Homo sapiens: one gene and its partner. The protein of the gene in region 1 interacts with the protein of each later gene in a pairwise test. Each region holds a gene or a part of one and is shown on either strand. Other genes may lie near its edges.

Region 1 (7,760 bases):
ACAAGAATTTCTGTTGTTCCACATCCTTGTCAACATGTGATATGATCTGTCTTTCAAATTTTAGCCATTCTAGTAGCTACAGTGCACAGTGAAACCTTATTATTTTCCTGATTTGCATTTCCCTAATGATTAATGGTATTAATTCATGCACTTATTTTGTCATTTATAAATCTTTGGTGAAATGTCTGTTCAAATATTTTGCCCATTTTAAAAAGTTGGGTTGTCTTCTTATTGGGTTGTAAGAGTTATTTATGTATTCTAGTTAGAAGTCTTTTGCCAAATATATGTTTCGCAAATACTTTCTCCAAGTTTGTGGCTTACCTTTTTATTTTCTTAACAGAGTCTTTTAAAAAGCAGAAGTATTTAATTTTGATGAAGTACAATTCATCCTTTTTTTTTTTTTTCATTTATAGTTTGTGCTTTTTGTGCCATCTTTAAGAAGTCTTTGAGAAATCCAAGGTCACTAAGATATCTTCTAGAAGTTTTGTGATTTTAGCTCTTACATTTAGATGTATGATCCATTTTTAGTTAATTTTTACATATAGTATTGATGGCAGTGGCAGCCCGTCTGGAGCAGCTGCTGCAAAGATGCAAGCTGCAGTGAGGGAGGCCTGGCCAGGGCTGCACACTCCACAGAACCATGAAAACAGGAACAGGCTGGAGCCCCACCTGCTTCTGAGTTGGTGGGGTGGGAGCCCCACCCTCCTGGGCACAGCTGCAGCTGCCCAACCACAGCTGTGGACCTGGGCATCCTTGTGCTCTCAGGGGCCCAGGAAGCCCCTTGCCCCCACAGGCTTGAAAGTGCCTGCTCCTGCTGTCTGGCCTCTCCCTGCTTCTGGGGCAGAGCAAAGTTGTGGCCAAGCCCAGACGCTGTCACAATCTGGCAGGTGTGTGCATGCTTGGGGCAACACTGACATGCCAGCCCCCTGCCACCTCAGCCCCCTCTGGACTTTGGACACTGATGAGCATGGGAGGGGAAGCTGAGGGGGCGCTGAGGGCAGCTCAGTGTGGGCCTGCAGGCTCCCGCTGGCACAAACAGCCTTGGTGCCATGGACAGTGGCATGAGGCAGACTGGCTCCTGGGCAAAAAGGGGTGGGTCCTCAGTGAAACCCTACCTTTAGGCAACTGAGAGTCTGAAGCCTGGGGGCTGGGCTGCCAGGTCCTCAGACTGGAGTGAGAACTTATGGCACTTTTTCTACTGCCCATGGACCAATCAGCATGCACTTCCTCCCTCTTGAGCCCATAAATATCCTAGGCTCAGCCAGACTCAAGAAACATGGGGACAACCTGCCTGCGTGTAGGAGCTACCCACTCCAGATCTCCTCTCTGCTGAGGGCTCAGCAGACATCCTGACGACCTGCCTGCAGAAAGGAGCCACCCACTGTGGGTCTCCTCTCAGCTGAGAGCTGGGCAGACAACCGGACAACCTGCCTGCAGAAAGGAGCTACCCACTTAGAGTCTCCTGAGAGCTATACTGTCACTCAATAAAGCACCTCTTCACCCTACTCACCCTCCAATTGTCTGCATACCTCATTATTCCTGGATGTGGGACAACAACTTGGGACCTGCCAAATGGCAGGACTGAAAGAACTGTAACACAAACAGGGCTGAAACACCCCCTCACTCCCCATGTTGCAAGCGATGAGAAGGACAGAAGAGAGAAGGAGAGAAGAGCTTTGACACTTCGAGAAGCCCAGACCTAAGAGCTCCCTGAGCCAGGACTGTAACACCCTCTTGGGGGCTCTGCATTTCCTGGCATCTCAAAGCTTCCAGGTGCCACCACATTCCCTAGTGCCAGCAGTGGAAGCCGCTTGTGGTACTCCTGGTCCAGCCACAGCTTTGCAGGAGCCAGCGCCCATGCCAGCACCTGGAGCCACCCGCCCCGCCACAGCTGGCGTGCCTAGCTGTGCACAGCGGCCAGACCTCGCGCTCACTTGCTCACGCACCCCTCACCACTTTGCGCCTGGCTCGTCCTTGGCAGGCATGGGATCTGGGCCAGTGGCATGAGCCGAGTGCAGCCTGCAAGGCCAAATGGGCAGAATGAGCCCAGTGGGCCTGAGCAAAACTCGGGCAAAGGAGCCACCGGCCACAGAGGTTTCTGGCTGGCAGAGCAACACTCCAAGGATCCTGTGACAGTATGAGGAAAGGAGCAAGATATTAAGAGTTTTTTGGCATATGCTATTCAATTTTTTCAGGTTTATTTGTTGAAAAGATTATCTTTTCCCCCACTGAATTGCCTTGGCATATTTGTCGAAAATCAATTGATGACATATGTATAGATACATCTCTGGGTTCTATATACTGTTCCATTACTCTATCTATTTTCATACCTATACTATACTGTGTTGAGTAGCTCTTATTATAATGTCTTGAGATCAGGTAGTGTAAGTCCCAAAACTTTGTTTTTTTTGATGAAAGTCTTGACTATCCTAGGTCCTTTGCATCTCCATATAAATTTTAGAATTAGTTTGGTCATTTCCATCAAAAAGAAATCTGCTAGAATTTTTATTGGAATTTCCTTAAATCTGTAGGTCAATTTAGGCAGAAGTGATATCTTAAAAATGCTCAGTCTTCTGATTCATGAACATAATGTATCTCTATTTATTTAGGTCTTCTTTAATTTCTCTTAACAATGTTTTTTATTTTATTTTAGATTCAGGGGGTACACGTGTAGTTTTGTTACATGGGTATATCGAACAATGCTGAGGTTTAGGCTTCTAATGATCCAGGTCACCCAAGTGGTGAACATAGTACCCAATAGTAGTTTTTTCTACCCTTTTGGAATCCCCAGTGTTTATTGTTCCCAACTTTGTGTCTGTGTACTCAACGTTTAGCTCCTACTTATAAGTGAGAACATGCGGTATTTGGTTTCCTGTTTCTGCATTATTTTGCTTAGGACAATGGCCTCCAGCTGTATTCATGTTGCTGCAAAAGATATGATCTAGTCCTTTTTGTGGTTGTATAGTATTCCATGGCGTATATGTACCACACTTTCTTTATCCAATCCACTATTGATAAGCACCTGGGTTGATTCCATGTCTTTGCTATTCCATAATATTTTATAGTTTTCAGTATACATGTCTTTCTCATCTTTGGTCAAATTTGTCCCAAATTTGCTGCTTTTTTTTTTTTTTTTTTTTTTGCTGATAAGAGATATTTAAAAATTTTCCATTTCTAATTGTTCATTGCTAGTATATAGAAATACAACTGATTTTTGTATATTTGATTTTGTATCTTGCAACTTTTGTAAACTCACTTATGAGTTCTAGCAGCTTTTTTGTAGTATTCCACAATTTTCTTATGCAAATAAATGCAGTGCTACAACTTCCTTTCCAACTTGGATGCCTTTTATATATTTGTCTTTTTTTATTTCATTGACCAGAACTTCCAATACAATGTTTAATTGAAGGCAATTTTTACAGAGTAATATTTCTAACTCCCAGGCCCGGATTAGGCTGAACTATGGAATCTTGTTGAATTTGATATCTTTTGGAATTTATTAAATCATTATTTATACTTCATTTTTAAGCTTTTTCCTTTTCCAGTGTTCAAATATTCATCAAATGTTCAAATATTGAACAAGTACCATGCTGGCTGTCAGGGAAATAATGGTGCACAAACAGGCATGGACCTAGCGCTAATGAAGTCTTACCGTACTACCGAGGCAGTTTAAAACAGGAATTAAAAACACAGGTTCAGGGTTCTGTCTGCTTGGGTTTGAATCTGGCTCTGCTCCTTAATGGTTGTTTGACCTTGGAAAAGTTAATCGACTTTTCTAAGCCTGTGTCTTAGTGAAGGTATTAATAATACCTACTCACAGGATTGCTGTGAAGATTAAACGAATTAATACCTTTAAAGTCCTTAAAATACGGTTTGACATATAGTAAATGGTCAAAGAGTATTATTATTAGAGGGAAGAATTAGCTCTTCACAAGGTGAATCTACAAGTGACTGGTGAAGGAGGGGTGTACAAACAAGAAACATAAAAACCAGTTTAACTGCTAAGCATAGAGGCAGCAGTGTCAGCTGTACCTGGGTTAAAATCCTTGCTCTGCTGTTTATTGTCTAGGCAACTTTGACCAGACGACTTAAACAAGAGCAATGCCCGTAAAGTGCCTAGTGCAGTATTTGGCACACAACAGATGCTTAAAAGACAGCAATTACTGATTCAGACGTCCCGCAGAGCAGTAATATCACTAACATGTGCTCATCATCATATCTATCATTTATCAAAGCTCAGGATTTTGAACCTTGTAATTACTTTTCATACATTCTCTTATGCTTAACAACTCGGCTAGGTGAACACAATCCATTGCCTCATAAAGAAACAAGATGACCTTTGTGTATCTATCATCAGTGGGGAGGCTGGAGGTCTGGGAAGTGGTACCTTGGAGCCCAACTGTTGACCAAACCAGGGCTCTCAGTGCGGCCTTGGTCGCCAGCGGGGCGCTCCACTTTCCGCTCCGGAGATGGCACCAGGAGAGATGGGAGTCTGCCAGGCTGTTTCCATGGCCACCTCATGAAGCCCCTGCTCCGGGAGCGTGACAGGCGAGACTCTCCTTCGCCGCCACCTCTCGTCTCAGATGACCATCTGGGCTCGAAAGCCCTCAGGAGCTGCGGAGCGCGGGTCGGTAGGGGCGCTGCAGAGGAAGGTTGGGCGCCGTCTCCCGGCAACGCGCGGGGGGCGGGGCTTTGCGTCACAGAGGTGCGACCGGGTCCCGGCCTGAGTCGCGGCCACCCGCAGGTCTGAGCTGTGGGCTGAGGCAGCGCAGCCGCTGCCGCAGGGTGCGCGATGCCTTGAACCTGGGGTGAGCTCCGCGGCGCTGTCCTTTCGTGTTTCCCTTGCTAGCTGCTCCAGGACTCTGGGTCTGGGAAGAGAAACCCCAGAGGGCCCTCCGCTGCCGAGCCAGGCTTCCGCGGGGAGACAGGCCTAGCCCCGCCGCCCTCCCCGGGCCTCGGATTGGGGCGTGGGGACGGCTGGGGAGGCCATTCTATTGACGCCCGTCTTCTGCCCGGCGGGTTCCAGTTGCCCGGGGTGGCGGTGGCTTGTCCCGCCTCGGGGTGGTTCTGAGGGACCCGGAGAGAGTTTTTCCTTCTCTATCCCAAAACGGTTGTTTGAATATTGCCGCCGGCTCAGTCATTCGGCCGCCGGACTTAGCTGTTGGTTAAATGTCCAGGTGCGCTTGAGGAGGGGCTGAGGCGGCGTAGCCAGAGCGAGCGCTAGGGTGGCCCGCGGGCTCGGTCTCCGCCGGGCTGGACACCCAAATAAGAAACCTTTTGCCTGGGACGATAGCTCAGAAATAGCCACGTCGATCTACTTAGCCAGCCCCACACTTATGAATTGGCTTAGGCTGCTACCCTTCCCAAAGGTCTTTCCTTGTCAAACTAGCTGCTACCTTGAGACCCGGCTAAGAAAAGAACGTTTTCTTGCTAATAATAAGAAGGTAGTGATTACACAGCAGGAGCAGAAGGCTTCTGTGTTAGCTTTTGAAATTATTCCTTCAGTTATTTGTCTCGGCGTTACAAAATGTGGATTTACGATTGTTATTGAAATCGATCCCTATGCCCCTTATTAAAGGTAGTGTACCTTTTATATTCTGACACTGTCCTATTTAGCGGTGCCAGCTAATTCAGTTCTTGCCTCTGGCATATATATAAAGCTGCTGGAACACTTTCAATTGTTTATAATTCTTACATCTTCAGCACGAATTTATTCGTTTTCACTCCCTTCTGCCCATTCTTCTTGCTATAAAATGACCTCTACCCATTCAGAATTTTGTCTGGGGGCATGAGCTGCCACCGGCCGACGATCCTAAATTAGTCACCTCCATGTCGAAGTCACCCGTCTGAGAAGTGATGCTTTCTGAATTCAGAGCTCAAAAATAGTATGGATTTTTATCCTTTTCTTTCACATTGCCTGACTTCAGTTTCTAGAACTTTTTCTCAAGAATATGACTATATGTTTCAAAAATTAATATTTGTCATTTGGTGTAAATGAACTTTATATTCGATGTGTGTAGCCTGATCCTTCTTGGTTCCCATCTAAATACAAACACGCTTTCCTTCCCAAAAAGGCAAGGGAGGTCCAGAGAGAATTCTTACAAGTCTAATATGCTTTTTCCAATATGAAATGCATTTAGTAAACACACTGTTACTGTGAGAAATCCATATTCTTAATCTCCTAGTACGGCACTCTATCCTTTTGTAGTTTCTCTCTCCTTCTCTCTCTAATATATATGTATGTATCTTTTTCTGATCAAGATCTTTGATTCTGGAACAGGCATTCTGGACTCTATAGTGACTCTGGCCTAATTATTTCACTATGTATCTATATTAACTTGTCTTGAAAAAAAAAAGTTGATATCTGTTTACAGATCTACAGTTTGAGTAAACAATGAGTAATAAAGTAAATAATATCCTTAGGGACCCAGTCAGTAGTACTTGGTATTTATTACTGATGTTAAAGTTGACTTGACAGTGAAAATCATTGATGTTTATTTCAATTAAATCCTTTTAGGTGAGGTTGATACAAAATTTGATGGAGAACTGGTTTCAGAGAGGTTTTTAAAATACTACAGTGCAGTACTTGTCATTTAGTCATTTTGGTGCATTTTCAGCCTTTTCCATTTTGCTTTAGTTATTTTATGAATGAATTATGGTTTAAATTTTTAGGAGTTTTTGAGCAGTTTTTTCGTTTTTGCTTTGCCAGTTACCCATGATGTAATTTTAATATTTTTATAAGGAATATTTGAACTTCCACAATTCATTTGTTAGAAAAATAAGTGATTCACTATGTACCACCCACTAGAGAATGTGGCATTTTTGGAATCCTTGATCTTGTGCATTTCAAAATAACAGTTCTTTATTTAGAAAATCCTTCAAATGCTTTTTGAAAGCATATTTTTATCTTGCAAAAAATGACTGTGTTATAGGTGGCACAATAATATGAGAGCTGCTAGTTCTTTGAGAAATCTTGACCAGAAATTCATCTTTTGTTGAATTCTGTGCCAGTGGTTTGCAAATTATGTTTCTATGCAATACCACTGTTGCATGGCCTAGGGGGGAGTATCTTGTTAAAATCAAATAGTAAATGTTTCCCAGTTTACATAAGCATTAATTTAATGACAGATTTTCACAGTTTTACATTTTCTTTCATACATATTTTTAACTTCTGCTTCTCTCCAACCTAGTACTAATAGATGACTGACCAAATTAACAAAAGTCAAAAGAATACTAAGTGAATAATAATAAAACAAAAACTGCCAATGGTATTTACTGCATTTATTCAGTAAACATCTATTGAGTGCTTGTGTATCTGCCAGAAGACAGACCATAGCTGCTGTCCTCAAGAAGCTCACTAGAGGGAAATGGCCAAGTGACTTAACGAATGTCATAGTATGATAGAAATATGTGCAGTCACCAAAGAGGGACACTGAAAAGCTGTGGTGGTTGACTAGAGGATGGCCTCAACAGATTGTTTTCGTGAACATGCACTCTGTGTTGTGGTTTTATATTGTATGCAGATCACAGAGTCATATCTTATTTTCACACCCATATAGTGATAGATGTTAATATTTATCAATATTTTATGGTTTTCAAAATAAACTAAATGTCAAGCCCTCTTTCTGGAACCAGGTTGAAAACCACTTCTGCAGGCTCTCTCAGGTAGTCTCTAGATACTGTTGCATTTTAATGCAAGGAGTTAGTGATGAAGTTTCCCAGATACCAAGTACAGTTACAAGATAACAAGTTAATATGCT
Region 2 (7,226 bases), on another chromosome or scaffold:
AAGTCCTCTGTGCCTCTGCCTAGCTCACAGTCCCGCCTTTCTCCCCCAACCTCTGAGAAAGTGAAAACTGCCCCTGACAGTTTGGAGCTGGCTTTCGCTATCGGGCAGGCTTTGGGGTTGCCAGGTGCCGGCCTGGCACTCACAGGTAGACTGTGGTGTTCTGCTGAACACAAACCATTTCACAGAAAACCATCAGACAGGCCACTCTATGACTATGACGGTTCGAGACCAAGACAAGGCCACTGCGGAAGAACGTCTGAGCACAGACGACTGTGTCCAAACTCCAAAAGATGACCAAACCTCCCCCTTCCCTGGCTAATGTGAGTGACTGCTGCATCTTTATCCATTACAGCGTTAGCACCTCTTTGTCCCTTCTGTCTTCTAGAAACAAATTATTAACATACCCAATTACAGGCCAGGTGCAGTGGCTCACACTGTAATCCCAGGACTTTGGGAGGCCATGGTGGGCAGATCACTTGAGGCCAGGAGTTCGAGACTAGCCTGGCCAACATGGCAAATCCCCGTCTCTACTAAAAACAGAAAAAATTAGTTGGGCATGGTGATGCATGCCTGTAGTCCCAGCTATTCGCGAGGCTGAGGCATAAGAATTGCTTGAACCCAGGAGGTTGCAGTGAGCTGAGATCGTGCCACTGCACTCCAGCCTGGGCAACAGAACTAGACCCTGTCTCAAAAAACAAAAAAAGATACCCAGTGACAGAAACAGCCCTGCTTCCTAACAGGATTCAATCCAGAACAAAGCCCCACTTCCTTGTAACCACCCAACACAAGCCCAACCCTACAATAAGTCCTTTCCAACATCCTCTTCCTTCTTTTTAATTGTGGTAACAGATGATACATAACAGAAATTTTACCATTTTGACCCTTCTTAAGTTTACCATTCAGTGGCACTGAGTATGTCCCGTACATGCTTTTATACTTTTACTATACAAGTATATATCCAAAAAACAATACATACTAGTGGTCTGCATGCTTTTGTACTACAAAAAATGGTATACTGTCTTGGTGCGGTAGCTCATGCCTCCTGTAATCCCAGCATTTTGGGAGGCTGAGCTGGGAGGATACCTTGAGCCTAGCAGTTCAAGACCAGCCTGGGCAACACAGCAAGACCTCATCTCTACAAAAAAAATTAAAAAGTATTAGCCAGGCATGGCGATGTGTGCCTGTTGTCCCAGATACTCAGAAGGCTGAGGTGGGAGGATTGCTTGAGTCTGAAAGGTGGAGGCTGTTGTGAGCCATGACTGAGCCACTGCACTCCAGCCTGGGTGACAGAGTAAAACCCTGTATCAAAAAAAAAAAAAAAAAAGGATCATAGCAACGCATTCTTCTGCATCTTACTTTTTTCTATATAACATGTTCTAGCATTTTAAAAACTATTAAAGTAATATATACTCATTATAAAAAATAATAAAATAGAATAAAAGTATGTAAATAGTGAAAGTCCTTCTGTTTGTTCCCCTCTCACAACTTAATCTCTCTCCCAGAACAGTCCCAGGTGTAACCTTTCAGACTATTCTACACACACCTGAACACACATATATGTACATGCTTATCCAGACAGATTCAGGCTTTTGTCATTTAATATCTCTTGGGTGTTTTTCATTTCACATTACATTTTTGTAACATATTTTGAGATCTGTCAAATATCATACTTTTTTTTTCTGAGACTTTTTTTTTTTCTGAGATGGAGTCTTGCTCTGTCACCCAGGCTGGAGTGCAGTGGCATGATCTTGGCTCACTGCAACCTCTGCCTCCCGAGTTCAAGCAATTCTCCTGCCTCAGCCTCCCAAGTAGCTGCTGGGGTTACAGGCATGGACCACCATACTCAGCTAATTTTTGTATTTTTAGTAGAGATGGGGTTTCACCACATTGGCCAGGCTAGTCTCAAATTCCTGGCCTCAGATGATTAGCCCAACAGGGCCTCCCAAAGTGCCGGGATTACAGGCATGAGCCACCGCGCCTGGTATATTATACTTTAAAGTGGCTGCAAAGAATTTGGAAGAACTTTAAAATGGTGTATGCCATGAGTATTTCTTTGCATTTTTCACCTGTCCCCACCCTACCTTTGTCTCCCGTTTTGGTGTAAATCTTGGGGATCCTGGGTGTCTTCGAGGAAGGCTGTGGCCTAATGAGAAATAAACATCAGTATCTGGTGAGTGGGGATGGCTTACACAGAGGGTCAGCTCCTTCAGAGGGTCCCAGCTTGCTGCTTGTAACCTCAGAGGCAGCACTTACCCCTTACTGCTTAGATGGTCATCTCTTGTTGATTTCTTTCCCCTAGATCCTTTCTAATAGCAAACATTTTGTGGGCAAGACCAGAGCTGGATGACAGAGTGTGTAGAGTAGCTGATGTAATGCCTTGCTCAACAAAGATGCTCAATAAATATTTGCTGAAGGACTTGATTGATCCTTTGCCATTGTCCCTGCACTGTGCCAAGTAGTTTACAGGCATTATCTTCTGGAATTATCCTGGAATCTTTCCACAACCCCAAAGGTAGCCAACACCTATTCTCTTCATTTTACTGAGGAGGAAACTATGGCTCAGATGAGACACCTTCCTAGACCATCCAAGAAGAGGCAGGAGTGGGATGCCCAAAACTGTCCTAGACCAGAGCACAAACTGTAACTTCTATCCTACCGAAATTATTTATTTATTTATTATTATTATTATTATTTTGAGATGGGGTCTCACTCTGTCACCCAGGCTGAAATGCAGTTGCACGATCTAGGCTCACTGCAACCTCTGCCTCCCAGGCTCAAACAATCCTCCCACCTCAGCCTCCCGAGCAGCTGGGAGCACGGGTGTATACCACCACACCCAGCTAATTTTTTTTTTTTTTTTTTTTTGGTAGAGACGGGTTTCACCATGTTGCTCAGGCTGGTTTTGAACTCCTGAGCTCAAGCAATACTCCTGCCTCAAACTCCCAAAGTGTTGTGATTACAGGCGTGAGCCACCGTATCTGGCCTATGATTATTTTGTTCACAGACAGGGTCTTGCTCTGTTGCCTAAGCTGGAATGCAGTGCAGTGGCATGATCATAGCTCACTGCAGCCTTGAACTCCTGAGCTCAAGTGATCCTCTGCCTCAGCCTCCCAAGTAGCTAGGACTCTTAACTCTATCCTACCCAAATTTTTATCTTATACTCCACCAACTCAGGGCCTCTTGCAGGAAAAGAAACCTGAGCCACTTCCATAGTATGAGGCTTCGAGTGTACTCAGAGATGAAGAATTGCCAAAATACAGCTCAAAAAGTGGCATTTTCAAAAAACAATGTAAACAACTCAAGGACATAGCTCAAAATTAAAATGTGACATTACAAGCCCATTCGAAGGTTAATTTCCTGGATCTGTGAACTAAATTAATCCATTATTAATCCACGGTACTCTAGAGGTTCTGAGGTCTGGGTTGAGGTGCAAGTTTCAAGGAATATGAGGAAAGCCATCTTTAGAAGGTGCTGGTGTATCTGGGACCTGGGGAATAAACTGCTTTGGAGATTGGTCACAATCTGAGTCGAGAGCCCTCCTGGCCCACATGGGATATGCCCTGCCCTGCCCGATGATAGCGGGACTTCATTGGGACTTAGGCAAAGACTACCTGGTCTCTGGCGCCCACGTGGCCCACGTTGCCATGGTGACGTCAGAACAGCGTGGAGACGTCACCTGACGGTTGCCGCGGTGACCTCACGGCGGTGTGACGTACCCATGGCGACGACACCACGATTCACGGCAGGTGTTCGAGTTGCCCTTCCCGCCAGCCACTCACCTGTCCCCGTCTTCCACGCCCTGAGGGCCGCGGCTCTGGAAACGGGGATACAGGAGCCTGGCGGCGCCGAAGCACCCGCGCAGGCCAAGACGGCTCCCCAGGCCAAGACGGCTCCCCAGGCCGCACACAGCCATGAGCCAGGCTGCTTGACGGGACCTGACCCCGCCAGGTTCCCGTCCAGTCCGCGGGGTGACTCCACCCACAGCTGGCCGCGCCACCGCTCAGGTTTCAATTTTTATTGGTTCGCAGTTCTCACCCCAGGGCGGGACACTCCCAGGGACTTGTTTCCCATTGGTTTAACGGAAGGAGCGGGGCGGGAAAACCCGTGTCGGCTTGGCTGCAACACCTATTGACCAATGTTCAAGCCTATTGGTAAAGGTACTCCGGGCTCGCGCGCTCTGATTGGCTGGCCTGAAGTACAACGCCTCCTCCCCTTGAGGCACGGGCGCTCTGGGTTGTGGGAGTTGGGGAGCTGCTCCGGCTTCGGCGCGGAGGGGCGGCGGCCGGGGAGGCGGCGGCGGCGGCAGGTGAGAGGCCGGGGTCGGGCGGCCGGGCGGCGCGAGGTCCTAGACCCAGGACGACGCTGAGCCAGGCGTCCAGCTTCTGTGGCTCAGTTTACCCAGCTCTGAGAGTCTTGCCCCGAGGGATCGGCGACCTCAATCTGACAGTCGTGATTTTGAGCTTGACAAGCAAGGGGATTCCCCGCTCTGAGCCTCAGTTTTTCTAAGAAATGGGGATCACGATAGTACTTAGCTCATAGTACACCTGAATCTTAGCGTAAGGTAATCTACGTAAAGCCTTAAGCGGAGGATAATTTTGCGTTATGTATAAAAGTGTAAATTGCACACACCTATAGACCCTGCAAGCTCCTTTCTAGGACTCTGTCCTGCAGAAATACTCATTTAAGTGTGCAAAACGAGGCGTACTGGGTGTTTTCTGCAGCCTTGTTTATAATTGTGACACATTGGAAACAGCCTAAATGTCCAGCAAAGAGTTCTTTCTGCTCCATGATTTCATGTAATTTCTACCTTTAATAGTAGTAGTTGTAAAAGCTGAAACGAAGAACAGAGCCAGTAATAAGTAGCTCTCAGTAATTGAATGATTAGTAGGTGCCAGACACCGCCAAGTGTTTCCCTTGCGTTAATTTAACCTTCCTAACATCCACCGAGGTAGGTACGGTTATTTTCTCTCCATATAACGTGTGGGGAAACCGAGGTTCTTAGCCATTTAAGTGAGTTAACTAAGATGACATCACTGGGGAGTGGAAGAGCTGGCATTTGAACCCAGATCTGTTGGATGTGTCCAGTTGACTCCTGCATTGCCTTTCTGGTACGTAGCAAGTGCTGGACGGTAACTACCTTTTTTGTTATTATGATGGGCTTGAACTAGGTGTTCTAAGATCTCTTCCTGCTGGTTCTGACATCTAGAGATCTTTGCTCTTCTCATTGGCTTTCCCTTTTAGGATTCCCAGGAGCCATGTTGTCAGAAGTCCTACTGGTGTCTGCTCCGGGGAAAGTCATCCTTCATGGAGAACATGCCGTGGTACATGGCAAGGTACAAAGCCGTTAGAGCCTTTAAGGATTGGGTACCCCTTCTCCCTGATGCTAATTTTGTAAGAAGGTAAAAGGACACCCTGAGGCACAGCTTGGGAGCAGATCAGAGAGATCAGGTTCTCCCCAGCCAGGCAAGGAAAAGATTTCTTATGCCCACTGAAGGGATTCTTGGGCCTCGCTCGGTATGATAGCAAAAAGATGATTATAATATAAAGCCCTGTGAGTGGAATGAGATCACCTAGGAGTGAGCTTTGATGCAGAAGGAAAGAGGTTTGAGAACTGAGCTCCGGGGCACTAAGACATTTAGAAGTTGGAAGGATGATCTAGCAAAGGAGTTGAAAACATCCATTATCTCATTTTACCCTTACAGCTACCCCCAAGGCATACCCTTTTATTATCCTATTTTACAAATGTGCAAACTGAGGCTTAGGAGAGAAGTGGTAACTTGATCCAAGTCCTATATACCTTGGTAGAGCTTGGTGTGAACCTAAGTCTGTCTGAAACCACCTCTGCTGCACTCTGCTTTTTTTTTTTTTTCCTGAGACAGTCTTGCTCTGTCACCGGAGTGCAATCTTGCGATCATGGCTCACTGCAGCCTCCAACCTCAGCCTCCCAAGTAGCTGGGACCACAGGTGTGTACCACCATGCCCCACTAATTTTTTTCTTTTATTTTTCTGTAGAGACGTGGTCTGACACTACGCTGGTCTCAAACTCCTGGGCTCAAGTGATCCTCTTGCCTTGGCCTCCCAAAGTGCTGGGATTACAGATATGAGCCACCACACCTGGCTTCTCACTGCTATTCTTTATGTTCTTATATTTCTCATTGAAAACATGGTGATTATGGGGAAGTGATTCCTTGGTATTGAGAACCTCTGAAATTTTGCAGGCAGAAGGCAAAGTGGATTTTAACTTTTAGCTGATCGATGGTGGCTGTTCCCAGGCTTAGTGGGAGAGCATGCCAAGGTTGATTAGCAGTGTCTGGCAAGGGCATGGCTAGGAGTGGCCTCTGTGCTTATGTTTGCTCTCTTCTTAGCACGTGGGTCCTGGCCCCTTTGCCACTCACCCTCAGGCTTATTGCTTTTGTCATTTATTCTATAGGTAGCACTGGCTGTATCCTTGAACTTGAGAACATTCCTCCGGCTTCAACCCCACAGCAATGGGAAAGTGGACCTCAGCTTACCCAACATTGGTATCAAGCGGGCCTGGGATGTGGCCAGGCTTCAGTCACTGGACACAAGCTTTCTGGGTGAGTGCAAGGAGGAGAAACCAGGTGTGCTAAGAGCCTACAGAGAGGGCAGCTGGCCAGGTATTCTGGGCTGTCCCCAAGGGAGCCAGGGGCCAGCTATTTCCCGGGTGTTTTCTACCCTGACCTCATAAAATTAGCTTCACTCATTTTATTTTTTTAAAATTTATAGGTGTAAAACAATGCATTGGATCTCTGTGGGCTGTTGTGGACAGATCATCAAGGCCTATTGTTGAGTGAAAAAAATGCAAAACAGCAAACATACGTATTTAAGTATAAATATGTGTATAAATGATAGAAAAGGTCTCGGGGGCATAGACATCAGATTGGCAGTGGTGATTAGTTCTCCTGGGAGAGACCTAGGGCCAGAGAGTAGACAAAGTGACACATGTTTTAAATAAGGAGAATATATTGGCATTTTGTATAATTAAAAATTGATAAAAGTAGGCCAGGCACAGTGGCTCATGCCTGTAATTCCAGCACTTTGGGAGGCCAAGGCGGGCGGATCATCTGAGGTCAGGAGTTCGAGACCAGCCTGGCCAACATGTCGAAACCATGTCTCTACTAAAAATACAAAAATTAGCTGGGTGTGGTGGCACACACCTGTAATCTCAGCTACTCAGGAGGCTGAGGTAGGAGAATCGCTTGAAC

The links.
Region 2: the proteins of RNF141 (region 1) and MVK interact in binary tests that used the Homo sapiens proteins (3 or more experiments, as listed by UniProt).

Annotation. Positions count from the first base shown.
Region 1 is NC_000011.10:10,538,170-10,545,929, reverse strand, and holds the start of RNF141 (RING finger protein 141), read left to right. Parts: upstream 1-4,742; 5' UTR 4,743-4,808; intron 4,809-7,760. UniProt on the Homo sapiens protein: May be involved in spermatogenesis.
Region 2 is NC_000012.12:109,569,568-109,576,793, forward strand, and holds the start of MVK (mevalonate kinase), read left to right. Parts: upstream 1-4,226; 5' UTR 4,227-4,306; exon of another isoform or gene 4,307-5,108; intron 5,109-5,241; coding exon of another isoform or gene 5,242-5,255; coding exon 5,256-5,333; intron 5,334-6,430; coding exon 6,431-6,578; intron 6,579-7,226. Other genes in the region: corrinoid adenosyltransferase MMAB precursor, read right to left, coding at 2,082-2,143, 3,780-3,913. UniProt on the Homo sapiens protein: Catalyzes the phosphorylation of mevalonate to mevalonate 5-phosphate, a key step in isoprenoid and cholesterol biosynthesis.